Regions from separate parts of the Homo sapiens genome. Here regions 2, 3, 4 and 5 are each linked to region 1. Evidence: fine-mapped expression QTL. A gene starts in region 1. Each other region holds a variant in brackets. All regions are shown on one strand. Distances are between the middles of the regions.

Evidence for each region. PIP is the estimated chance that this variant, and not a neighbour inherited with it, causes the effect.
Region 2: its variant is fine-mapped to the expression of UQCRC2 in whole blood (INTERVAL, PIP 0.90).
Region 3: its variant is fine-mapped to the expression of UQCRC2 in skeletal muscle (GTEx, PIP 0.96).
Region 4: its variant is fine-mapped to the expression of UQCRC2 in whole blood (INTERVAL, PIP above 0.99).
Region 5: its variant is fine-mapped to the expression of UQCRC2 in blood mononuclear cells (TOPMed, PIP above 0.99). The same link has a PIP of 0.9 or more in whole blood.

Annotation. Positions count from the first base shown.
Region 1 is chr16:21,950,751-21,955,750 of GRCh38, reverse strand. UQCRC2 (ubiquinol-cytochrome c reductase core protein 2) reads right to left here and starts at 2,390. Exons shown (of 14, transcript NM_003366.4): 1 at 2,295-2,390. The coding sequence starts at 2,327. RefSeq lists enhancers at 2,048-2,097, 2,108-2,277, 1,792-2,509, 2,598-3,057.
Region 2 is chr16:21,820,756-21,825,860 of GRCh38, reverse strand. No RefSeq gene overlaps it. Among named protein-coding and RNA genes, the nearest start is that of NPIPB4, 34 kb to the left of the region's middle. RefSeq lists an enhancer at 4,582-5,105. The variant C/T (reference allele first, on the strand shown) is at 3,027.
Region 3 is chr16:21,345,178-21,350,317 of GRCh38, reverse strand. It overlaps the pseudogene SNX29P1. Among named protein-coding and RNA genes, the nearest start is that of CRYM, 69 kb to the right of the region's middle. RefSeq lists a silencer at 1-144 and enhancers at 1-504, 505-1,312, 2,465-3,024. The variant C/T (reference allele first, on the strand shown) is at 2,932.
Region 4 is chr16:22,043,077-22,048,216 of GRCh38, reverse strand. The region is part of intron 1 of MOSMO (modulator of smoothened); the gene reads right to left. Among named protein-coding and RNA genes, the nearest start is that of MOSMO, 38 kb to the right of the region's middle. The variant G/A (reference allele first, on the strand shown) is at 3,148.
Region 5 is chr16:21,709,791-21,714,930 of GRCh38, reverse strand. It overlaps OTOA (otoancorin), which reads right to left. Exons shown (of 29, transcript NM_144672.4): 13 at 4,828-5,043. Among named protein-coding and RNA genes, the nearest start is that of OTOA, 48 kb to the right of the region's middle. The variant T/C (reference allele first, on the strand shown) is at 2,910.

The DNA.
Region 1 (5,000 bases):
AGACCACACAACCAAAGGTCTTAGTTTTTTTGACTAAATAAAACATTTATGACATGTATGTCATCCTGAGATTAATAATGGCTTCATCCACATCAGATTCTCAATATATAAAATGCAGTTACTGGTAGGGTGAAAGGGTCCCATTAAATATTAGATAATGGACCCAAAATGCATTCATTTTATTCAGTTTGTTTTGGCAAATGTTATACAATGCCATACAAATCATTCTGATTATGACTAAAGTTCATGAGGTTATTAGAGGAGATGATGAGTGAATAAAATTTGGTGCTCCCAAGACCCAATGAACACCTCCTCACTGGAGTTTCCCGGACATCCCTGCACAGTCTGCAATGCCTCCACTCTGTGCTGTCCAGAAGGCTGTTTGTTGTACATCATTAGTGCTGTACTAGGTTGGCTGCTGGTTATCACTTGCTTTTAGTACTGCTTTTCAGTTATGAATTACAATTAGCTTTACTTTATCGTCATCAATTTAGTTTGCTGGGTATGGTATAGTTAACCTTCTTTGTAATTTTGGCCTATAATTTTCCAAAAAGTAAACTTTTAAGATATATGGGCATAGCAATTCAAATATGAATAATCTATAATTCCGTTACCAAGTGAGATTTTAGGTGTTTTCCAACCAAATGTGCCCAAATAGTAACTCTTTGTTGGTAATTTTTTTTTTTTTTTTTTTTTGAGACGGAGTCTCGCTCTGTCGTCTAGGCTGGAGTGCAGCGGTGCGATCTCGGCTCACTGCAACCTCCGCCTCCTGGGTTCAAGAGATTCTCCTGCCTCAGCCTCCTGAGTAGCTGGGATTAGAGGCGCCCACCACCACCACGCCCGGCTATTTTTTTTTTTTTTGTATTTTTAGTAGAGACGGGGTTTCACCATGATGGCCAGACTGGTTTCGAACTCCTCATCTCAAGTGATCCGCCTGCCTCTGACTCCCAAAGTGCTAGGATTACAGGTGTGAGCCATCGCGCTCCGCCGGTAATGTGCTTCTTAATCGTCCCATTCAAATCAGCAAATTATCCTAGTAACTGTCATGCAATCTTCTAAATTATTTTGTTCTAATAACAAGATATATCTAAGTTTATTCTCCTATATAAAGTGCTAAAATTAGACACATAAATAATTGCTTTCAAGTTTACTGCAATTTGTTTACTTTGGGCCTCTCCAACTGTTTTCTCTGAGCTTTTTCTGTTGCAAAATAGAATGGAGAAGGAAATGTTGGGGTCTTTTGCCAATCTAACCGTGCTTCCCTCCAAGGGTAATCACTGGTGTGTCTAGGTATACCTGGAAGGTTAATGCAATTACAGCCTAAATCGATATAGCCCACAGCACATTTATGTAAACATAAAGCATAAGAACATTCCATGCCCAGGTCTGGTCTTCTGCATCTCCATCTAGGGGGGTTTCTCAACACAGGTACTACTACTGGCACTTGGGGCTAGATAATTCTTTGCTGTAAGGCGAAGTTTAGCAGCATCCCTGGCCTCTCCATGCCAATAGCACCCTCCTTACAAGTTGTTGCAACTAAATATGTCTCCAAACATCGCCACCGGTTCCCTGGGGGCATTCTGTCCCTCGCTATGATTTTTTAAGTGTTCCCCCTTACCCCTCTTAATAACCACTGTCCCACAGTGATATAACCCTGATGTGTGAGTTTTCCCCAAGTGACAGCTATGTTTAATTTAGGCTTGAAGGGGAAACTTAATTAAGGAGCTTTTGAGGACAAACAGAGACGTCTTGGAGGAACCGTCTAACATACGATCAAGAAAAGCAACGTTAGACTACTAAGACACCATAGTATTTAACAATGAAGTTCCAGGTACTGTAATAAGTGTTCTATCTGCATTAGCTCCTTTCTTATACTTTTATTCGCTGGGGAAACTGACGCTCCGTGATAAACCAAGGAGCAGAGGCTGCAGCGGATAAAGTGAAGGTGGGGGGCTAAGTGCGCCGTCCTCCCGCTCCCCCTGGGTTTCACGGTCTCTTTCTCCAGCACTTGAGTACCGGAGTGACCTTCAGAAGTCTCTCCAAGGACTCGCTTCAACTCCGCTCTCACGTCCTGCCCCTCTCTTCAGGTTTCCCGGTGTTAGGTCTCTTGTGCTCACAGCATGAGCTGGGCCTCCAAAGCCTGACCCAGTCTGCAGCCCACTTGGCCCGCAGGGTTCAGCTGAAGGGCAGACCGAATCCCAAGGCCCAGACCCCAGACCAGACACCTCCGCCTCGTATCACCTTGTCGACACACTGCTCCCCAGCCCTTTCCCAAACCCGCCACCTGAGCTCACCGAGAAAGAGCCGGCTCTGGTTAGTAGCTTCATGATTCAAGATTGTTCTGACACACGGTCACTGCCGGATTAAAGGAAAGCAAGATGGTGGCGGAGGCCGGGAGTTTCCCAGCGTTCCCCGCTAACACTTTCCCACGTCCCCTTCGTGAGGTACTCTCTATACTGCCGCGCTCTACTGCTCTCTTTATAAGGTTGGACCAGTCCAATTCCTCCAAGACTCAGAATAGGGAGACGCACAATTTCCCAAGTAAATATATGCAGAGAATAATGTACGTCACTGCTTTTTGCGTTCTTCTCCTAGCCTGAATATCCAGTATGCACCCCTTTTCTAAGTACGTCTGCAGCAGCCTGTCACAACTCCCCCCGCTATCTTGGGCTCTTCCGCTCAGCATTGTCCAATGGGACGCGCCTCTCTTGGGACTCCGCATGCGCCCTCCGGGATGACACCTGCACTGGAGGCCCTGGGTTTCCGCGTTCCTGGACGTTGGAGGCTTCAGGAGATTCCTGCCACTCCACCTTTCTGCAGAGGTATTGGGTATCGAAGCCCGGCGTAGTTGCCTCTCGCTGGGTGAAGTCCTTACTGGATCTTTAGCTCCGTGAAACAGGGGCCTCGTTCAACGTATTCGCCGCTGTGTCCCCCAGAGCAGGCCCGGGACACACCGGGAGGGTCAGCAACCTCGGGGAATCATCACAAGGCTTTTGGTCTCGTGGAATTTACGTCCTAGGCTGGGGCTACATAGAATATAAAAACTTAGCTATAGTTTTTGTGTTAGGAAAATAGAAATGTTTTGGATAGTAGGTGTGTTATGTGAGCCGAAACCGGCAGTTGGAGAAAGTCAGTCACGTGACGACTTGGGGCGGGGGCGTTCACTCCGGTCCTCAGCGAGTGTTAACCCAGAAAGTGCCTTGAGCTAGGCACTATGCCAACGCGAGAGGCGTGGTCCCTGCCCTTTAGGGACTTTAGAGTTTCGTACCTTGCTACGTTGCTTGGTTGGGAAACCGACAGTATCAGCATCAATATCATTTAGGAGTTGATTAGAAATGTATGAACTCCAGGTCCCATATTGGATCCGAATCGGTGTTTTTACAAGATCCTGGGATGACTTCGTATGCACAATAGTTTCAGAAAGGCTGGTGGTGTAGACGTTACAAGGCATAGGCAAATGTACTTTCTTTTTGCCTTGTGTCTGAATTGCTCCAGGCCTACAACGGACTTGGGCTCTCTAATTAAGATCTGGGCATTAAGAACCTGGCACCAACCCAATTTCTGTGCCTGCTGGGGACGCCCTCAACCCAATTCATACCACACAGTTTCCCCACATGTGGTAGATTTAACACTAGTGGTGCGTGAGATGATTTTAAGTTGGTACATAGATGAACACTTCCATTTTTTCCTTTTAAAAATTTGTATAAATTTAAGGGGCGCAAGTACAGTTATGTTATATGGATATATTGCAGTAATGGTGAAGTCTGGGCTTTTAGTGTACCCATCACCCGAATAATGTACATGGTACCCATTAAGTACTTTCTCATCGTTCACCTCTCTCCCACCCCTCCACCTTTCGGAGTCTCCATTGTCTGTCATTCCACACTCTATGTCCATGTGTACACCTTATTTAGCACTGTTCCATTTTAATAATATATTTATTTTGATTATGGCAAGCAATGCTAGTAGTGAATTTCCTCTTTAAGTACATTTATAAAATAATAAAAGTTGGTGTAAAAACGTTAAGTAACTTGATGATACGGAGATACAGCAAAAATCATGAATGTGTTATACAGGTACCATTGAGTGAAATCTGGGAAGCAGTGCTCTGATCAAGCCACCTGCCTGCTTAAAATTCTTCAACGACAGCCACGTTTTTCAGGATAAAATTCAAATTCATTAACATGGCATACAAAGCTGTCTCCAGTACTTCAAAACCCCAATTCCCAAGTTAGCTAGCTGCACCCCTGAGTCCAATCATTGTAACTTCATCATTCAACAGTTCAGGTCAGGTAGGAGGAACACAAAAGTCTCCACACTCAAGTGCACACACACACACACACACACACACACCCACACCTGCTTATAATGTCCTCTCATTCTTAGGTTATGACCCAATATCAGAAAGGGGCAAAAATAAATTCTGTTCAAAATGTGGCAGGATTTGAAACATAATTCATGATATCAGCTACATAAATCATAAAATCCCAAGTTTGTCAATTGCAAAATGTCCTATTAAGCATTAAGCTACAAATTAGGAGTGCCATCTTGTGGACACATCCACCACTTCCACATCATGTCACCTCCTAGCCAACTCCGTGGCTGTTCTCACTGTGGAGGTCTCTGCCACAACTCCAGCATTTTATTGCAGAAGAAAACCCAGTCCTTGAACTGGTTTCTGCGTAGAACACACTGAAAGCCCTGGGAGAGGAAACCAGCAGACAGGAAAAGAGTAGACATGGAAGAGCAGATGAGTTCATTGCTGGAAAGCTCGAATTGTTAGTTTCGTTAATGTGGGGTCCAATTTGACTCTATGGAGCCTAACTACCTAGCCTGAGCGCTCGCGGTGAGTATGGGGTGGGAGAATGTAAAGAGAAAGCAGGCAACAGTAGGAGTAAAACACACCAGAGGAAGGTGATGTGGGTTTATACTTGGGAACAACATTACCTTGCCATCTTAGGGCCAGAGGCATTAATCATGGCTTCCCCAATGCATAATTT
Region 2 (5,105 bases), 130 kb after region 1:
TATTTTTCTTGTATAATGCTCAGAGTTTCCTTTAAATCTTTTTAAAAACTTGGCAGCCTTAGTCTTAGCTGTGCTTTGGGAAAATAAGGAGCTGCACTCAAGCTTAAGAAGATATTGCTGGAAGTGTACATTGGCACAGCCTTCGAAGCTTCTTGGTGCCCTCCTGTAACCCAATCGACACTGGCTAGAGAGATGAGGTCATATTGCATCAAATGGCTTCCAGTGATTCTTTGCTGTGGACAAGAAAGTTGCTCTTTTTCTTTGAGAAAGTTGCTCTTTTTCTTTGAGAGGGAGTTTTGATGCCTAGGCTGGAGTGCAATGGCAGTGATGTCGGCTCACTGCAACCTCTGCCTCCCAGGTTCAAGTGATTCTCCTGCCTCAGCCTCCCGAGTAGCTGGGATTACAGGAATGTGCCACCATGCCAGGCTAATTTTGTATTTTTAGTAGAGACAGGGTTTTTCCATGTTGGTCAGGCTGGTCTCGAACTCCCGACCTCAGGTGATCCACCCATGTTGGCCTCCAAAAGTGCTGGGATTACAGGCGTGAGCCACCACGCCCAGCCAAGAAGGTCACTCTTTATGCTCAACAAATGTATTGCAAATGGCTGAAAGGTAGGGAGGATCCAGATGAACAATTTCTAAATAGGAAAACTAATAGCCAGACACGATGGCTCACACCTGTAATCCCAGCATTTTAGGAGGTCGAGGCAGGCAGATCACCTGATGTCAGGCATTTGAGACCAGCCTGGGCAACACGGAGAAACCCCATGTCTACTAAAAATACAAAAATTAGCCAGGTGTGGTGGCGGGCATGTGTAGTCCCAGCTACTCAGGAGGCTGAGGCAGGAGAATCACTTAAACCCGGGAGGCAGAGGTTGCAGTGAGCTGAGCTTGTGCCACTGTACTCCAGCCTGGGCAACAGAGAGAGACTCTGTCTCAAAAAAAAAAAAAAAAAATCGTAGATATCCAATTTGTTCCTTTCTCCTTTCCTAAAAGCTTTTTGTGCCCCCTCCAACCCAACAGTTCCACCCTAGAAAAACACTTGTACACATACATCAGGAAACGATACAAGAATATTCAGGCTGGTCGCGGTGGCTTGCCTATAATCTCAGCATTTTGGGAGGCCGAGGTGGGAGGACGGCGAGAGATCATGCCACTGCGCTCCAGCCTGGGCAACAGAGGGAGACTCCGTCTCAAAAAAAAAAAAAAAAAAAAGCATAATGTTGAAAACAAACAGCAGTATAATACAGCATGGAGATAACTTTATAAAATGCAAAGACAAATAAAAGTAAATATAGTGCATTGTTTAGGAGTATAAATATGGTAATTATGCAAAGAAAACTAAAATGACTTTTAAAAATCATGATGGTGACTATTTTTGGGAGGAAAGCAGGTAGAAGGTGGGATCTGAGAGCAGCACACAGTAAGTGTCAATTGTCCTAGTTAATGTTCGGCTTCTTAAATTGGGTGATATGTTCACAGGTGTTCATTATGTTCTTTTTTTTTTTTTTTTTTTTGAGACGGAGTCTGACTCTGTTGCCCAGGCTGGGGTGCAGTGGTGCGATCTCGGCTCACTGCAAGCTCCACCTCTTGGGTTCATGCCATTCTCCTGCCTCAGCTTCCCAAGTAGCTGGGACTACAGGTGCCCGCCACCACACCCGGCTAATTTTTTTTTTTTTTGTATTTTTAGTAGAGACGGGGTTTCACCGTGTTAGCCAGGATGGTCTCGATCTCCTGACCTCGTGATCCACCTGCCTCGGCCTCCCAAAGTGCTGGGATTACAGGCGGGAGCCGCTGCGCCCAGCCCATTATGTTCTTATAACTTACATTAACATATTATTTTATATATGTCAAGCTTTTTTTCCCTTTTTTTTTTTTAAGAGATGAGATTTTGCTTTGTCACCCAGGCCAGAGAGTGTCGTGGTGCAGTCATAGCTCACAGCAGCCTCCAACTCCTGGGTTCAAGTGATTCTCCCACCTCTGTCTGCCAAATAATTGGAACTACAGGCATGTGCCACCATGCCTGGGTAAGTTTTTTTTTTTAATTTTTTATTTATTATTATACTTTAAGATTTAGGGTACATGTGCACAATGTGCAGGTTAGTTACATATGTATACATGTGCCATGCTGGTGCGCTGCACCCACTAACTCGTCATCTAGCATTAGGTATATCTCCGAATGCTATCCCTCCCCCCTCCCCCCACCCCACAACAGTCCCCAGAGTGTGATGTTCCCCTTCCTGTGTCCATGTGTTCTCATTGTTCAATTCCCACCTATGAGTGAGAATATGCAGTGTTTGGTTTTTTGTTCTTGCGATAGTTTACTGAGAATGATGATTTCCAATTTCATCCATGTCCCTACAAAGGATGTGAACTCATCATTTTTTATGGCTGCATAGTATTCCATGGCATATATGTGCCACATTTTCTTAATCCAGTCTATCATTGTTGGACATTTGGGTTGGTTCCAAGTCTTTGCTATTGTGAATAATGCCGCAATAAACATATGTGTGCATGTGTCTTTAAAACAGCATGATTTATAGTCCTTTGGGTATCCTGGGTAAGTTTTTTAAAAGTGTTATTTGTAGAGACGGAGTCTGGCTGTGTTGCCTGGGCTGGTCTCAAACTCCTGGCTTCAAGGTATCCTCCTGCCTCAGCCTCCCAAAGCTCTGGCATTACAGGTGTGAGCCACTGCACCCAGACTCAGACTTTTTTTAAGGGAAAGAATGGGAGTGTAGGTGGGGAGACACACTTTGGGAGGCCAAGGTGGGAGGATCACTTGGGCCGGGGGTTCAAGACCAGTCTGGGCAACAAAGTGAGACCTCGTATTTACCAAAAATACAAAAAATTAGCTGGGCTTGGTGGTGTGGGTTTGGGAGGCTGAGGTGAGAGGATTGCATAAGCTGTAGGAGCCCGAGGCTGCAACGAGCTGTGATCGCGCCATTGCGCTCTAACTTGGGCTAGACAATGAGATCCTGTCTCAAACCAAAACAAAACAAAACAGATAATTGTCAAATTGCTGTTTTG[C/T]TATTGTTGCTTTTTGTTTTTGCTTCGCTTTGCCTTGGAAGTGAAGAAGAGATTCTCATTTAAACAGTTATCTTGAAGTATCTTTGTGAACTAGGGTGCAATTATTTCCTCTGTCCTTGAGACACAGATGATTCCTGTCCAACATTCCCAAGGAACTCAGTAAGGACCAAATAGAGACTCAGGAAAGACAGTTACTGATTTTACACTGTTGCAAAACAGAGCTATGGTTTATGTTTAACAAACTGCTGGTGGGGCGTGGTGGCTCATGTCTGTAATCCCAGCACTTTGGGATGCCAAGGTGGGTGGATCACTTGAGGTCAAGAGTTCGAGACCAGCCTGGCCAACATGGTGAAACCCTGTCTCTACTAAAAATACAAAAATTAGCAGGGCATGGTGGTGCATGCCTGTAATCCTAGCTACTGGGGAGGGTGAGGCACAAGAATCGCTTGAACCTGGGAATCGGAGGATGCAGTGAGCCGAGATCACGACACTGTACTCCATCCTGGGTGACGGAGCGAGACTGTCTCAAAAAAAACACAAAAAACAAAAAAACCAAATTGCTGTATTTTATTTTGTGAAATAGGGTCTAGCTCTGTTGTCCAGGCTGGAGTGCAGGGGTGCAATCACAGCTCACTGCAGCCTTGACCTCCAGGGCTCAATCGATCCTCCCTCCTCAGTTTTCAAGTAGCTGAGACTACAGGTATGCACCACCATATGCTGCCCAGGCTGGTCTTGAACTCCTGGAGAGAGATACATACACACACACACACACACACACACACACACACACACACACACTTTTTTTTTTTTTTTGAGACACAGTTTCGCTCGTCACCCAGGCTGGAGTGCAATGGCACAATCTTGGCTCATTGCAACCTCTGCCTCCTGGGTTCAAGCTATTATCCTGCCTCGGCCTCCCAAGTAGCTGGGATTAGTAAGGCACTGCCACCATGCCTGGCTAATTTTGTATTTTTAGTAGAGACAGGGTTTTGTCATGTTGGCCAGGCTGGTCTCAAACTTCTGGCCTCAGGTGATCCACTTGCCTCGGCCTCCCAAAGTGTTGGGATAACAGGCATGAGCCACTGCGCCGGGCCCATACATATGCATTTTAAAAAATTTATTTATTTATTTCGAGACAGGGTCTCACTCTGTTGCCCAAGCAGGAGTGCAGTGGTGCTATCTCCCAGGCTCAAGCAATCCTCAGCCTCCCGAGTAGCTGGGACTACAGGTGTGTGCCATCACACCCAGATAATTTTTATTATTTTTATTTTTTAAATTTTTTGTAGAGATGGAGTTTCACCGTGTCACCCAGGCTGGATATTTTTGTATTTTTGATAGGCCTGTACAGTTTCCAAAGTTGCAACCTTTCCCCCTCCCTGAGAGTAGGGGCAGCCCCGGCTCTCCCTCTACATCCTCCACAGTCCCGAGGTTTTGGCCTCTGTTTCCTCTGTTTCCTATGCTTGGAACACCAGTCGCTCTTTTGTTGGTCTGGCTGACTTCTGTTCCTCTTTTAAAAATTTAAGTTTGGCCGGGTGCGGTGGCTCACGCTTGTAATCCCAGCACTTTGGGAGTCCGAGGCGGGTGGATGACCTGAGGTCATGAGTTCAAGACCAGCCTGGCCAACACAGTGCAACCCCGTCTCCACTAAAAATACGAAAATTAGCCGGGTGTGGTGGCATGCGCCTGTAATCCCAGCTACTTGGGAGGCTGAGGCAAGAGAATTGCTTGAACTGGGGAGGCGGAGGTTGCAGTGAGCTGAGATCACGCCACTGCACTCCACCTGGGCAACAGGGCAAGACTCGGTCTCAAAAGAAAATAAATAAATAAATAAATAAATAAATAAATAAATAAATAAAGTCAAGGGGGTAACACCTCTTGGTAACTCTCCTGTTGTTTCTCATGCCAGCATCATCACAGCCTTGAGGCTCTGGGGTAGGTCACTTCGTCGAGCTCGTTTCCATGAGGATAACGTTATCTTGGGTGTCTGTGAGAATGCTGCACTGAGTATAGAGCCCAGGCTCCTGGGTCAGCCGGGTTCGAATCCCCTTTCCTCCGTGAAGATCTGGGTCAGTCACAAGT
Region 3 (5,140 bases), 610 kb after region 1:
TCTTCGTAGCGATACACTACTATACACCAAACACAAAGCTGGTGCCATTGGCACGACCTAGAAACAGCCATGTTCCTCATCCCCCAGAGCGCACCACGGTCACTCAGTACAGCACGTGTGCGCTGCTTACTGCCCTGTGCCTGCTGCTGCCTGTGCTGCAGGAAACAGCCCAGAGTCGAAGGATGGTCACCAGCCACCCGGAAGACAGTCCTGCTCTGGCACGCAAACACGGAGCATCGCAACCGGCCGGCCTCGGCTTTCCAAGAACTCAGACTGTCACTCCCGCCTTCACATTCCAGACCCCAACAGCAGCTGAGCCCGCACTTCTGAGCGCGTGGCTGGGTAGAGCTCCAGAAACTGAGACAATCACAGACATGGCAGGTGCGTCAGGGCTATGACCAGCTCTCAGGACTGGCAGCATCACCTTGTGGGATTCCCCACCATCCTATGAAATCGGCACTAATCCCGTAGAGGCCACCAGGAAGCTGGGGCCACATGGCAGGTGAGGGGGTATGTCAGGTCACCTGTGCAGGGGCAGACCCCATCTCGGCCACACTGGGGCCCTCCCCTGGCAGGAAGGGCAGGGCCAGACAGGGAGAGAAGGGTACTCAGAGGGCACTTCGAGCCAGAAGCAGAAACATCTACCCAGGAGATCTTTGCCAAGACAGACCAGAAGCTGTGGAGACCAACGGACAGGAGGGGGAGGCAGTGAGGCCACAGAGACTGCAGGCCTGCTATGTGCACCCTGGAAGCGGAGTCCTGCAGCCCTCGCCCATGTTCCCCATCCTGGGGGCTCCCTGCTGCCCTCGCACTGTGACACCGATGAAGGTCAGGAGCATGCGGGCACAGTGCCTGCAGGGACAGGGCTGCAGCGAGAGATGACTCACCTCGCTGTCCTGCGTGATCTGGACTTGCTCCCCCTGCGGCACCTTGGCGATGTGGAGGTGTCCCTGTGGGATCCGCAGCAAGAAAAGACACCAAGAAGCATCAGAAGAAAATAAAAAGCAAAGGAAACAAGAAACATCTTCCGGAATGTTTGTTCTTGATTATCTGTTTACAATTCAAAAAGATAACTAAATCCTGAATAGTGCAATATAGTCTGTGGTCACCTCTTTAAATTAAGCTTTTGGTTCACAGTAGTCCCCCTCATCCATGAGGGTTTCAAGAAGCGCCCCCTCCCCCCACCACGTGGACGTCAGAAACCGTGGATGGTGCGGAACCCCGTATATGCTATGCTTTTTCCTGCCCATACGTGCCACACAGCTTGGACATGCTGGACAAAGGAATGACTCACGTCCCAGGCTGGACACAGCAGGACGATCAGACTTCATCATGCTACTACCCAGAAGAGTATGCAATCTGAAACTTACAAATTGTTTATTTCTGGAGTTTCTCATCTAATATTTTCAGATCACAGTTGACTATGGGTAATTAAAACCTAGGAAAGTGGAAGCATGGGTAAGGGGGGGTACTGTGTAACACAGAACATGTTCCAGTACTTCACAAAGGAGCAATAGGTCCCAGGAAAGATATATACATCTTTAAATGTTACTAAACAAGTAAATTTTAAAATGTGCATGACACACAGAAAAGAGGGGAAATAGAAAATCACAATGACACCTCTTTTCAAATGATACGTTCAGCTCTCTGGGGATGCTGGGAGGCTACGCAAGCAGTGTATGGCTGAAGCAGGGGAGCTGTTTGCGTGCCTACACTCACAACAGGGCAGGCAACATTTTTCAAATCAAAGAAACACTCATATGACTATTTAAACAGTTTGAGGAAACACTAACAAATGTGATTCAAAAAAAATCAAAGAATCCACTGTTTATACATATGGGCAGACAAATATTTCCTATAAACCTGTAAATGAAATGAATACTTATCTTATTTGAAATTCTCTCTTAGTCGAAATGGATCTTAAACTCCTGTAGAATGTTCTATGTAAGCCTTATGACAAAGTTATCTACTCTGGAACGCTTTCAAAGAACTTCTTACTAACAAGATGAGAGGAACTGCCATTGTGAATGTCAAATAAATTAATAAGCTTATTAAATAAGATTCACTATTCATAACTGTCTCATCTCCTTTGGAAGAGGAAGGGTAATGCCCCCTCTAAAAGCCCCAGAATTTTCTGGAAGCCTTCCCTCTTCCAGACAGCACGCTGAAGCCACACTGAGATGAGAGCCACGACCCACTCTCAACAGTGGAGGACCTTGTTTCCAGGAGAAAGCCCTGGTAACACGGAGGCACACGATGACCTGTCTTCAGAGGGCCCAAGGGGGCTGGTGCCACTAAAAACATAGGCGATGTCTAGTGGTGCATGTAAAATTTCTAGTCACTCAGCAAAGCTTCCAGAAAAGTCTTCTTCTCAGCCGCCCCCTACTCTCGTGCCACAGAATCCAGGAGGTGTTTGTAGAGGGACTTCACCCGGGAGCGAGCCCCTAGGCGCATCAGACTGACCACAGCTTGGGTCACAAAACCCCAACAGAGAACTCCGCATGGGCAAGGCAGGACATTGACTTGCTGCTGGGACAGTGCCCGCCCAACCTGGGTGTGCTGAGTAACTCCAAGGGAAACGCTGCATGGGAACAATGACCTCAAGCTTTTGCCACTGATCCTAGAAGGAAATTACTCTTTCCCTCAGTAAGAGGACGCCTGCACTTCTGAGCTGAGAAATATTTCCGATGCTTCCCAGGAGCACGAGCTGGGGCAGGGACCACTGCACAGCCTGACCCTTGGAGCTGACTGCCCGCCTGCCTGCTGGCAGGACTGAGGTGAGCTGACTGAACGCCCCACCCCACCATGTGCTTCAATCCCTAGGCTCTGCAGCAGCCGCCCCCACCTGTGAAATGTTAAGAGCTCATGGCCATGATGACCTCTACTTTAAATGGGAACCTTGTGCCTCCTCCCAAGCTATCACTGTGCTCC[C/T]GAAACACAGCGGAACTGGTGGAAGCCGCCAGGGCCCTGCCGTGGCCCACCCCGCAGCCCCCTTTCCCAAGGTGCGAGGTGGAGAGGGTACGTACTACTTGCACCTGTCCGTCTTCTCCGATCTGGTGGATCTGCACCTGCTGCACGTTGGCCAGCGCGTAGTGCAGGGCCTGCGGCTGCGGCTGTGGCTGCAGGAGCTCTCTGGCAGGAGGTGGGGTGCTCATCATCGGCTCTGTGGGGGCAACAGGTGTGAACGGGGTGAACGAGAAGTTTCTTAGGCATTGCCTTGTGCAGCATGTGTGCACCCCCGTCCCTCACTCTCGACTCCCACAGCAGAGAAGAGGAAATGCTTCATTTTTCCTCGGCTCACTGCATCTCCACTCTTCTGCAGAGATCACTACGAGTGAGTCTTAGGAACTGAGGTTTCCGACATGGAATGCAGAAGGGCCTGAGAGTGGCGTGATGCTGCTATGACAAAACCCCTTTTAGTCCCAACTTATTTAAATGAATGAAGTTCTTAAAGTGGACATTAAAAGCTGTTTCAGGCTGGCAATATTTGTCCATGGGTAATTAAACTAATAGAGCAAAAGTCTCATCCACGCACTTAAAGATACATTTCCAACAAATTTTACTTGCTGTGTTTAATCAAAATGAGATACATTTGCTTTGATGTACTGTGTATTAATTTTCACTGTAATGATGTCTCAATCATAATTTTCTTAAACTCTTAGAATATTAAGAGCACAGAAAAACTTTAATTTTCATTGTATACACGTAGTTTTGTTGCAGAGAATTATAATGACTAATTTTAAAAAGCTTTTAAGCATAAAAATGTAGTCTGGGCACGGTGGCTCACACCTGTAATCCCAGCACTTTGTGAGGCCAAGGCAGCCAGATCACCTGAGGTCACGAGTTCAAGACCAGCCTGGCCAACATGGTGAAACCCCATCTCTATTAAAAATACAAAAATTAGACAGGTGTGGTGGTGGGGGTCTGTAATCCCAGGCACTCAGGAGGCTGAGGCAGGAGAATCACTTAAACCTGGGAGGCGGAGGTTGTAATGAGTCAAAATGGCACCACTACACTCCAGCCTGGGCAACAGAGCAAGACTCCATCTCGAGGGGACAGGGGAGGGAAGCAGAAAGATGAAATTCTGTGAGAGAAGTAGAATGTTGATATGAATGAAAGGAGAAAAATGAAAGACATAAAATTTCTGATTATTAAAGAGAAGCGGGCCAGGCGTGGTGGCTCACGCTTGTAATCCCAGTACTTTGGGAGGCCAAGGCAGGCAAGATCACTTCAGGTCAGGAGTGCGAGACCAGCTTGACCAACATGGTGAACCCTGTCTCTACTAAAAATACAAAAATTAGCCAGGTGTGGCGGCACGCATCTGTAGTCCCAACTACTTGGGAGGCTGAAGTAGGAGAATCACTTGAACCTGGGAGTAGGCGATTACAGTGAGCTGAGATGGCACCATGGCACTTAGCTCCAGGCAACAGAGTGAGCGGGGGAAGGGACGGGGAGGGGCAAGAGAGGGGAGGGCAAGAGAGAGGAAGGAAGGAGGGGGGAGGGGAGGAGGGAGGGGAGGGGGAGGGGCGGAGAGGGGGAGGGGGAGGGGCGGAGAGGGGGAAGGGGAGGGGCGGAGAGGGGAAGGGGAGAGAAAAGCTTTCCATGTATTTTTTACCAATAGCTAATGGTAGGTATTAAATTGCCATAGTACATAGATTCCACTGAATACATTTTTTAAAGTAACAATAAAATGTTGGTTTTTTTTTTTTTTTGAGACAGAGTCTTGCTCTGTCACCCAGGCTGGAGTGTAGTGGTGTGACCTTGGCTCACTGCAACTTCCGCCTCTCAAGTTCAAGCGATTCTCCTGCCTCAGCCTTCCAAGTAGCTGGGATTACAGGCACCCACCATCATGCTGGGCTAATTTTTTTTTTGTATTTTTTTGTAGAGAAGGGATTTCACCAGGTTGGCCAGGCTGGTTTTGAACTCCTGACCTCAAATGATCCGCCTGCCTTGGCCTCCCAAAATGCTGGGATTATAGGTGTAAGCCACTGTGCCCAGCCACATAACAGAATGTTGATACTTGCAATATGCTAGAAATTGCCTAGCTACACTAAATCAGAATCTCAAATTCATGAGATTCAAAGGAGATTCAACATGCCCACCTGCATGCTGCATGTGGAGAGCTTGGCTCCAGCCAAAG
Region 4 (5,140 bases), 92 kb before region 1:
GCACACAGATGTAGAGTAACATCTTTCTTACACAGAGATGTTGGATTTGGGAATTTGGCTCTATAATCTGTGTTATTTGCTATGCTACACAGTCCTACACTGCAGTAGCAACCATGGAAGTACACTGCTCAAGATCTCCCTTGAAGATACCTTGCAGTTCAGTTCTGATGTGCCTTTAGGACTTAACTCCCTCGTCTTTCAAGATCAGGCCACTTTCTTCCCTGGCAGTCACAGGTCAATAACTGAATACATGGGAGTACCAGGGCCTGGCTATTTCTAACCAACTGGTAGTACTATCCTTCTAATAGGCAATCTTCACTCCAGAGTGCCCCACTGAATAGGCTGTAACTGTTAGATGTAAATCAGTCTGAGCTCTTTCCCTTCCTTCAGCTTCTGACTGCCTATCTTTCACAGGTACTCAGTGAACTATTTGCAGTCCTAACTCTGTCTCAGTGTCAGCTTCCCAGAGGACCTGACACAACTGCCTTTCTAAGGAAACTTCAAGTGCATACACCTTTCAGCTTAGCAATTTCATTTTTACATATGCAACCCACAGAAAAACCTGCATATAGGGAAAAAGAAACAGGTACAAAGATGTTCACCGCACTATTACTTATAATAGCACTATTACTAAATATCTATCAATACAGGAATGGTTAAATTATGGTGCATAGGCCAGGCGCGGTGGCTCAAGCCTGTAATCCCAGCACTTTGGGAGGCCGAGGCGGGCGGATCACAAGGTCAGGAGATCAAGACCATCCTGGCTAACATGGTGAAACCCCGTCTCTACTAAAAATACAAAAAATTAGCCGGGCGTGGTGACGGGCGCCTGTAGTCCCAGCTACTCCGGAGGCTGAGACAGGAGAATGGCATGAACCTGGGAGGCGGAGCTTGCAGTGAGCCGAGATTGTGCCACTGCACTCCAGCCTTGGCGACAGAGCAAGACTCCGTCTAAAAAAAAAAAAAAAAAAAAAAAAATTATGGTGCATAAACAGTATAGAATACTAAAAGGAAATAATTCTGTGTATATTGACGTGGAAAGATCTCTAACACATGAGAAAAAAGCAAACCACACAATAGTATATATCATGAGATCCATTTATTAAAAAATTATATATATTTCTGTAAGTCCACATATTTATAAATATGTAGAAAACTGATAGTAGTTCCAGAAAGGAAAGATGCCAGGAGGGGGTGAAAAAGGTAGGGATGAGCGAGTCCTATATTTTAACTTTTCATTTTAAAATGTAGAATGCATTAATATATATAGTCGATCCTCATTATTCAGGGATTCCATACTTGCAAATATGCCTACTCACTAAAATTTATCTGCAAGCTCCAAATCAATAGTTGTGGCACTTTTGTGGTCATCTGAGGACGTAATCCACGTGTAGAGTGGCAAAAAAATTTGAGTCACATGACAGCCATGTTCCCATATGCAGCTTAGCATGGCAATGCTCTGTTGTCTCAGTTCTCCTATAGTAAGTGCATGTCTTTTCTGTGGTCTCTTCAGCGCCACGTCTTTCACATTTTTGTGCCTTTTACTGATGATTTCACTGTTTAAAATGGTCCCAATTATAGTGCTCAAGTGCCGTCTAGTGTTCCTAAGTGCAAGAAGGATTTTCCCTTTCAGAGAAAATATGTGTGTTAGGGAAACTTCGTTCAGGCATGAGTTACAGTGCTTCTGGCACAATACTGTTGACATATATTCTTGTACAGGATTATTAATATATAATATTAATGTAATTGAATCAATACATATTAAATAATATGTCCTAAAACAGAGACATACAATGAGGTTATGTATTGATCAGTTGATGAAATGTGACCAGAGACCTGCAGGAACCTAACCCTATTTCCCCCAGGGGCAATGATCCAGTATTCACTAATTCAATGTTTGCAGTGACTTTACAGAACATAACTACCACATGAGAATCGACTGTATTACTAAAGTTTAAAAAACAAAAAAGAACCATGTTGGCCAGAGCAATAGCTCTAGTCTTTAAATAGAGCAATAAAGCCATTAATAGGGGTTGAAGTGTCCCTTTAGCTTTCCTGTGCACTCAAATCCCACATTCCTCAGCTGCCTGCTTTTCATGGTGATGATATGGCCAGGAATTGAACAATGAGAACACATGGACACAGGAAGGGGAACAGCACACACCCGGGCCTGTTGTGGGGTGGGGGGAGGGGGGAGAGATAGCATTTGGAGATATACCTAATGTTAAATGACGAGTTACTGGGTGCGGCACACCACCATGGCACATGTATACATATGTAACTAACCTGCACGTTGTGCACATGCACCCTAAAACTTAAAGTATAAAAAAAAAAAAGAGTTCTAGTGAAGAAAGAAAAAAATATATATCTCTTAACTCAAATTTTTCTTGACAAGGCCCCCAAAGAGAATTAAAGAAATCAAAATGAGTTACTACTGACACCTAAATTCATTCAAAAAGACTTGCAATTTTTCCCCAGAAATTATCCATAAGTATTTTAGAATATTTTATGGATCCATAAATGATCCATAGAATATATGCATTAATTATACTTACAGTTGAGCATCCCAAATCCAAAAATCCACATGTGGCTATTGAGTAAATGAAATATGCTATGCAATTATTTTTTTAAAACAGTAACTAAAACCTTTTTAAACTTACTGCCACCCTTTTAGCGTAGGAAATCTTTTTAAGAAATGCAAAAAGCAAATTTTTATTTTCAGGATCTAATACCTAATCATTTTTCTCAGTTCCTAAATATTTTACTACCCATCAAGGCCCAGAGCCAATACTGATAACACAATACATTTTATTTATAAAGACTATGGTGCTCTAGCCCCAGCGCTGCCTTTCTATGCCTTTCCCACTCCTGTAAAGTCACATCAGAAAACATCACATTTTTCTAAAATACCCAAACTTTACACTATGAATTAACTATGAACATATTAGAATCTTGATTGTGTATAAGAAACCACAGAGAAGAACTGAATCTCTCCTTTCACCTAGTTACATTATTGCCTTTTTTTTTTTTTTGAGACAATGTCTGGTTCTATTGCCCAGGCTGGAGTGCAGTGTCACGATCTTGGCTCACTGCAACCTCCAACTCCTGGGCTCAAGCAATCCTCCCACCTCAGCCTCACGAGTAGCC[G/A]GGACTACAGGCATGTACCACCATACCTGGCTAATTTTTTTTTTTTTTGTATTTTTTGTAGAGATGGAGTTTTGCTAAGTTGTCCAGGCTGGTCTTGAACACATGAACTCAAGCAATCTGCCCACCCTGGTCTCCCAAAGTGTTGGGATTACATGTGTGAGCCACCGCTTCTGGTCTATTATTGCTATTATATGTAAGCTCATCATATAATGCAGAATAATTTGCTAAACTGAAGAGTTACTCTTAACATGAGGGCCCATGAAAGGTAGCATAGAATAATGGTTAGGAGACAGTAAGCTATACAGCAAGGCTGCCTGGGGATCTGCCACTTACCAGCTCTGTAACCTTGGGCAAGTTACTTATCTTTTTCCCTACCTCACTTTCTTCATCTGTGAAATGGAGAGAGTAAGTAGTACAGGTTGAGTATCCCTTATCCAAAATGATTGGGACCAGAAGTGTTTCAGATATCAGGATTTTTCAGATTTTAGAATATCTGCATTAATTATACTTACGGTTGAGCATCCCCAATCCAAAAATCCAAAATGCTTCAGTGAGCATTTCCTTTGAGCATCATGTCAGTGCTCAAAAAGTTTTGGATTCTGGAGCATTTGGGATTTGGGATGCTCAACTGTACCCACTTCACAGGATTCTTAGGAAGATTAAATAAATTTATTCTTGTAGGAAGCTTAGGAACAATCCCTGGCACACAGAAGTACTTAATAAATTAGTTATTATTAATGTTGACAGGTTGTGCCAACAATGCAAACACAACACTTCTGGCTACCTAACTTGGGGGAACAGGTAAACATGTATCCCTTCAGTGGGTAGTACTCCATATAACTATTATCTATACTATTTTTATATATGGTGTGGTTTGGCTCTATCCCCACCCAAATCTCATCTTGATTGAAACTCCTATAATTCCCACGGGTTGTGGGAGGGACCTGGTGGGAGATAATTGAATCATGGGGGCGGGGGGTTCCCTCCCATACTGTTCTCATGGTAGTGAATAAGTCTCATGAGATCTGATGGTTTTATAAGGAGTTTCCCCTTACACTTGGCTCTCTCATTCTCTCTTGCCTGCAGCCATGTAAGACAGGCCTTTCACCTTCTGCCATGATTGTGAGGCCTCCCCAGTCACGTGGAACTGTGAGTCCATTAAACCTCTTTTTCTTTATAAATTACCCAGTCTTGGGTATGTCTTTATCAGCAGCATGAAAACGGACTAATACAACATAATTGACACTTCAGAATTTCTCGAACTTACCTAAACTGATCATATATTTAAGGCAAGTCTCTACGATTATAAATTCAACTGCTGGTATACAGAACCACCTAGACTTTATCAGATTCTGTACCTAAGATCTAAAAGTAACAAACAACTCAGCTTTCTCTATGGCTGGGAGGGACAAACTATTTTGTCTTGAATCAAGGTATAATTTTGCATTTCTCTGGATGGAAAAGTATAGTATGTTAGTCCTGTTTAATTTAATTAATGAATTCCAATTTTTCAGAACACAGTAGGCTTTCCTTGGGATACCTAGCAAAATGGCTAGAATAAAAGAGGTGCTCAATAAATATTCACTGATAAAATATAGGAAGATGAGGCAAGAGTGTGTGAATAGTCAGATGATAAGCATCCATGTGAGCAATGTAAAGATACATATTTAAGGAAAAATAATCCCTATATGTGTCAAATGATAGTTATGTCAGAAATGGAAATGTACTGCTGTGACTAAAAGACTAAAATGCTGGGTACCATCAGAATTTAATGAAAAAAAGCAGAAAACTTTAAAATTCTTGCTATTCATAATGCTTATCTGTCCTCATGAAGAATATACAGTTTCTATGTGTCATGCTAGCAACCTAATGGCCTAAGACAGTTAAAAGATCACAGAAACAGATGAAAAATTTTCCATATGTTAAATTCCCAATGCTGCATGTCTTTAATTGTTGATCTTTACAGGGTAAGAAGTTGCTCCCAATTATAAAC
Region 5 (5,140 bases), 240 kb after region 1:
ACGTGCACTCAGCCCATCTATGTGCCAAGTATAGGGATGGGTGACACCTTAGGGGCACAGCAGTGAGCCAGACAGATGCTGCCTCCACAGGCCTTCCTTCCTTCTATCAAGAAAGAGAGTTGGCCAGGCATGGTGGCTCACGCCTGTAATCCCAGCACTTTGAGAGGCCAGGCGGGTGGATCACCTGAGGTCAAGAGTTCGAGACCACCTGGCCAACATGGTGCAACCCCATCTCTACTAAAAATACAAAAATTAGCCAGGCATGGTAGCAGGTTCCTGTAATCCCAGCTACTTGGGAGGCTGAGGCAGGAGAATTGCTTGAACCCAGGAGGCAGAGGTTGCAGTGAGCTGAGATTGTACCATTGCACTCCAGACTGGGCAACAAGAGCAAAACTCTGTCAGAAAGAAAAGAAAGAAAGAAAGAAAGAAAGAGAGAGAGAGAGAGGGAGAGGAAAGAAAGAAAGAAAGAAGAGAGAGAGAGAGAAAGAAAGAAAGAGAGAAAGAAAGGAAAGAAAGAAAGAGAAAGAAAGAGAAAGAAAGAGAGAAAGAGAGAAAGAGAGAGAAAGAAAGAGAGAAGGAAAGAAAGAAAGAAAGAAAGGAAGGAAGGAAGGAAGGAAGGAAGGAAGGAAGAAAGGAAAAGAAAGAAAGGAAGGAGGAAAGAAAGAAAGAAAGAAAGAAAAAAGAAAGAAAGGAAAGAAAGAAAGAGAGAGAGAGAAAGAAAGAGAAAGAAAGAAAGAAATTATACTTGGGTTTTTTTTCCTTCCTTTAGAGTGAAGATGCTAGATAGTTTTCCATATAATCAAGGACATGCTTTGGTTCTATGAAAAGACAGCTGAGTGGGTTCCTTTAGTTATTCTGTGTATAATGGGTGATCTCATGCTGTCTTCAAAGAAGGCAAGACCTTTTGACCTCTTGCCTTCTGAGTAAAAGTGGCCTCACCCCTCAGTAGGAAGAGTTGGGTATTAGGAAAGAGACAAACCACTTTGTCCTGGGCTGGGAGGGAACAAAACCGTCTCCCTCAACTCCCTAAAATCAAATTCAGAGAGGACTGTCAAGGTGGACCCATGGAGCCCCAGTCAAGGTCCAGAAACAAGGATTCAAAGCCTTCAACATAAAGTCACCACGAGGCTAGAAGAGACCAGATGAATGGGCTGGCCTGGTACCTGAGTCAGAAAGTGGGAGTGCGTGGGCATTGGTCATGGTGCCATAATGGAGACAGTGAGCACAGGAGTTAAACAAGATGGCTCTGAGGCCAGGTGCCCTGGGTTCAATCCCAGCTGCGTAACTTTCACGTGGCCTTTTCCAGTTCCCTTACACACTCTGTACCTCACAAGAATGAACTGGAAAATGAAGACTACAGCACTACTGACTTCAGAGGATTGTTGGATTAAGTTATTAATTCACTTAGAACACAACCTGGCACATAGTAAGTGTTCAGTAAATGTTTGTTATTCCACACCCTCCCTCCCTTGGCCCCGCGATGGAGGAAGCAGGCTAGGACCAGCCCTCGGAGCTGCAGCTGCCCTTCATCCCTCCCTCGCCCTCTCTACCGACATCCTGCTCCAGTTCCCACTTGGATTTACTTTGGGGAATGTGGTTGGAATATATCTGGCTCAGAACCATGACATACCAAACCCAGCTTTAAAAACTTGAAGAAATTTAAAAAGACTTGGATGCCAAGAAGAAATTCCCTACTCCTTCTCTTTGGGAGGCCAAGGCGAGTAGATTGCTTGAGCCCAGGAGTTTGAGATCTGCCTGGGCAACATTGCAAAATCCCATCTCTACAAAAAAATACAAAAATCAGCCCGGCGTAGTGGCATGTGCCTGTGGTCCCAGCTACTCAGGAGGCTGAGGTGGGAGGATCACCTGAGCCTGGGGGGTCAAGGCTGAAGTGAGCCAAGATCAGATCACTTCACTCCAGCCTGGGCAACATAGTGAGAACCTGTCTCAAAAAACAAAAAAAGAAGAAGAAACCCCCCAGTTCCTGAGGCCGACTCCAGCACTGCCTTCTGGATGCATGGATTCTACTCTATAACTCTTAAACCCCTTTACCGCCTGAATCAAAAGCTTTTGTTTTCATTTTACCACCTGAATCAAAAGCTTTTGTTTTCATTTCCAACCTCAGTGATGCGATCTCGGCTCACTGCAAGCACCGCCTCCCAGGTTCACGCCATTCTCCTGCCTCAGCCTCCCGAGTAGCTGGGACTACAGGCACCCGCCACCATGCCCAGCTAATTTTTTTTTTTTTATTTTTAGTAGAGACATGGTTTCACCGTGTTAGCCAGGATGGTCTTGATCTCCTGACCTCGTGATCTGCCTGTCTCGGCCTCCCAAAGTGCTGGGATTACAGGCGTGAGCCATCGTGCCTGGCCTAGTGATTTTCTTCCTTGTGAGACACTGTGGTATTTTGCTTTAGAACAAGCAAAATGGGGCCCCTTACATTTTCAACATCTTCACCTCTTCCCATATCCTCCTTCAAGCTGCATGGGAGGTACTAACACTAGAATTACGGTGCTAGGTTAGTAAACATGACCTTTAAGGAGTAGTCTCTCCTTTATTCTTTGGGATTCCTACTACTTTTTTCTTTTTTTTTTTTAAGACAGAGTCTTGCTCTGTAGCTCAGCCCAGTCTGGAGTACAGTGGCATGATCTCGGCTCACTGCAACCTCCTCTGCCTCCTGGGTTCAAGTAATTCTTCTGCTTCGGCCTTCCAAGTAGCTGAAATTACGGGTGTGCACCATCATGGCCAGCTAATTTTTCTATTTTTAGTAGAGACAGGGTTTCACCATGTTGTCCAGCTGGTCTCAAACCCCTAGCCTCAAGTGATCCATTCATCTTGGCCTCCCAAAGTGCTGGGATTACAGGCATAAGCCACCATGCCCAGCCTACTACCTTTTGTCAAAATAAAAA[T/C]TGATGAGTTTTGTATAGTTGGTCAGACACAGTTAAAACTAAATTCACAGTTTAGCAATTATAATGGGTGCTTGTTAAACATCTGGTAGTAAATTATGTTGTTTCAAAGTAATTAAAATTAATATCCAGAAGCCAAAAATAAACAAATGTTTGTTATTATTATTTGATTGGAATGGGTCCTAATCCAATCCTTGTGAGCCAGTTTGCATCCTGGGAAGTGGCCAGGAGTGTGGACTAAACGAGAAGGACACCAAAAGCCAGGCACGGTGGCTAATGCCTGTAATCCCAGCACTTTGGGAGGCTGAGGCAGGCGGATTACAAGGTCTGGAGTTCGAGACCAGCCTGGCCAACATGGCGAAACCTCGTCTCTACTAAAAACACAAAAATTCGCTGGGTGTGGTGGTGGGTGCCTATAATCCCAGCTACTCGGAAGGCTGAGGCAGGAGAATTGCTTGAACCCGGAGGCGGAGGTTGCAATGAGCTGAGGTTGTGCCATTGCATTCCAGCATGGGCGACAAGGGCAAGACTCCGTATCAAAAAAAAAATTAGATGACACCAAAATGCTTAGAACTCAAGTCTCCCAGATTTGGAGCCCTCTGGACTGGACCCAACCCAGGGACATTAATTGTCCCCAAAAGAATGTCCATTTTCCACCCCAGGAGCAGCAAGAACACAGATTAAGACTCCTGTCCCCACCAAAGAGGACTGTCTGCCTGACAGTTCCCTCTCTGCAGCCCAAGATTGGAATAAAATAGCATCATCCCTAATCCCAAAGTAATGGCAAAAACCGCAATTACTTTTTGCATCAACCTAATAGCAGCTTAACAGCAGGCAGGAAAATCCTGGGATGAGTCCCACACGTTGATCCCACTCAGGGATGGCTAATGCCCCTTGAGCTCCTACTCTGTGGTGTCACCTGGTGGTCTAGCTTCTTCATGTGTACCAACTCACATAATATTCGCAGCAATGCTACAGGATAAGTGCTACTGATTTGTTGTTGTTGTTGTTTAATTTTTTTTGAAATGGAGTCTTGCTCTGTCGCCCAGGCTGGAGTGTGGTGGCACAATCTCTGCTCACTGCAACCTCTGCCTCCCAGGTTCAAGCCATCCTCCTGCCTCAGCCTCCCAAGTAGCTGGAAGTACAGGCATGCACCACCACGCCCAGCTAATTTTTGTATTTTTAGTAGAGACGGGATTTCACCATGTTGATCAGGCTGGTCCCAAACTCCTGGCGTCAGGTGATCCTCCCACCTCAGCCTTCCAAAGTGCTGGGATTGCAGGTGTGAGCCACCTTGCCCGGCAGTAAGTGCTATTGTTGTCCACATATTACAAATAGAGAAACTGAGTCAAAGTGAAAATAGCAAATTGCCTAGTGTCACACAGCTAGTAAATGGCAGAGCAAGGATTTGAACCCAGGCAGTCCTCCTCAGCATCATCTTCTTACTGATTGGTTGCCCCCTGCTGTGTGTGTATAACTGATTGTTATGGATTAAATATTTGTGTCTCCCAAGAATTCATATGTCAAAGTCCTAACCCCTAATGTGATGGCATTGGGAGGTGAGACCTTTAAGAGGCCTTTAAGGGTTAGATGAGGTCATGAGATAATGAGGGTCAGGTGGGGCCCTGATCCAATGGGATTAGTTTCCTTGTAAGACGCAACACCAGAGAGCTTGCTCTCATGTGGTCAGGTGAGCACACAGCAAGATGGCGGCCACCTACAGGCCAAGAGAAGAGGCCTCAGAATGAAACCTACCTTTCTGACACCTCGATGTTGGACTTCCCAGTCTCCAGAACTGTGAGAAATAAATTTATGTTGTTTACGTCACTCAATCTACAGTATATTTTTATGGCAGCCTGGCAGGTCTAATACACTTAGGTCATCTTAGGGGAATAAAAAAGAGTTTAAAACTCCAGCTGACCTTCTCATGGGCCAAGTATTTGGCAGACAAGATGATGACCTGGCTCTTGGCCCAACCTGAGACCTGGTTGAGGGTGGAGATGGCTCCGTGCACAGCCTCGGGGGAGAGGGATTCCAGTTGGCTGTAGGTCAAACCTACAACTGCATCCGACAAAGAACCCAGGGTCTCATTGAGGGTCTGGTTCTCCATGGCAATGTCCAGGAGTTCTGCTTTGAGCTGGAAGGAGAGCAAACTGGAATGAGTGTTGACAGGAAGCAGGGCGGTGGCTCCCTCTGACCATATCCAGGGCTATTAGGACTCCACAGCACCTCCC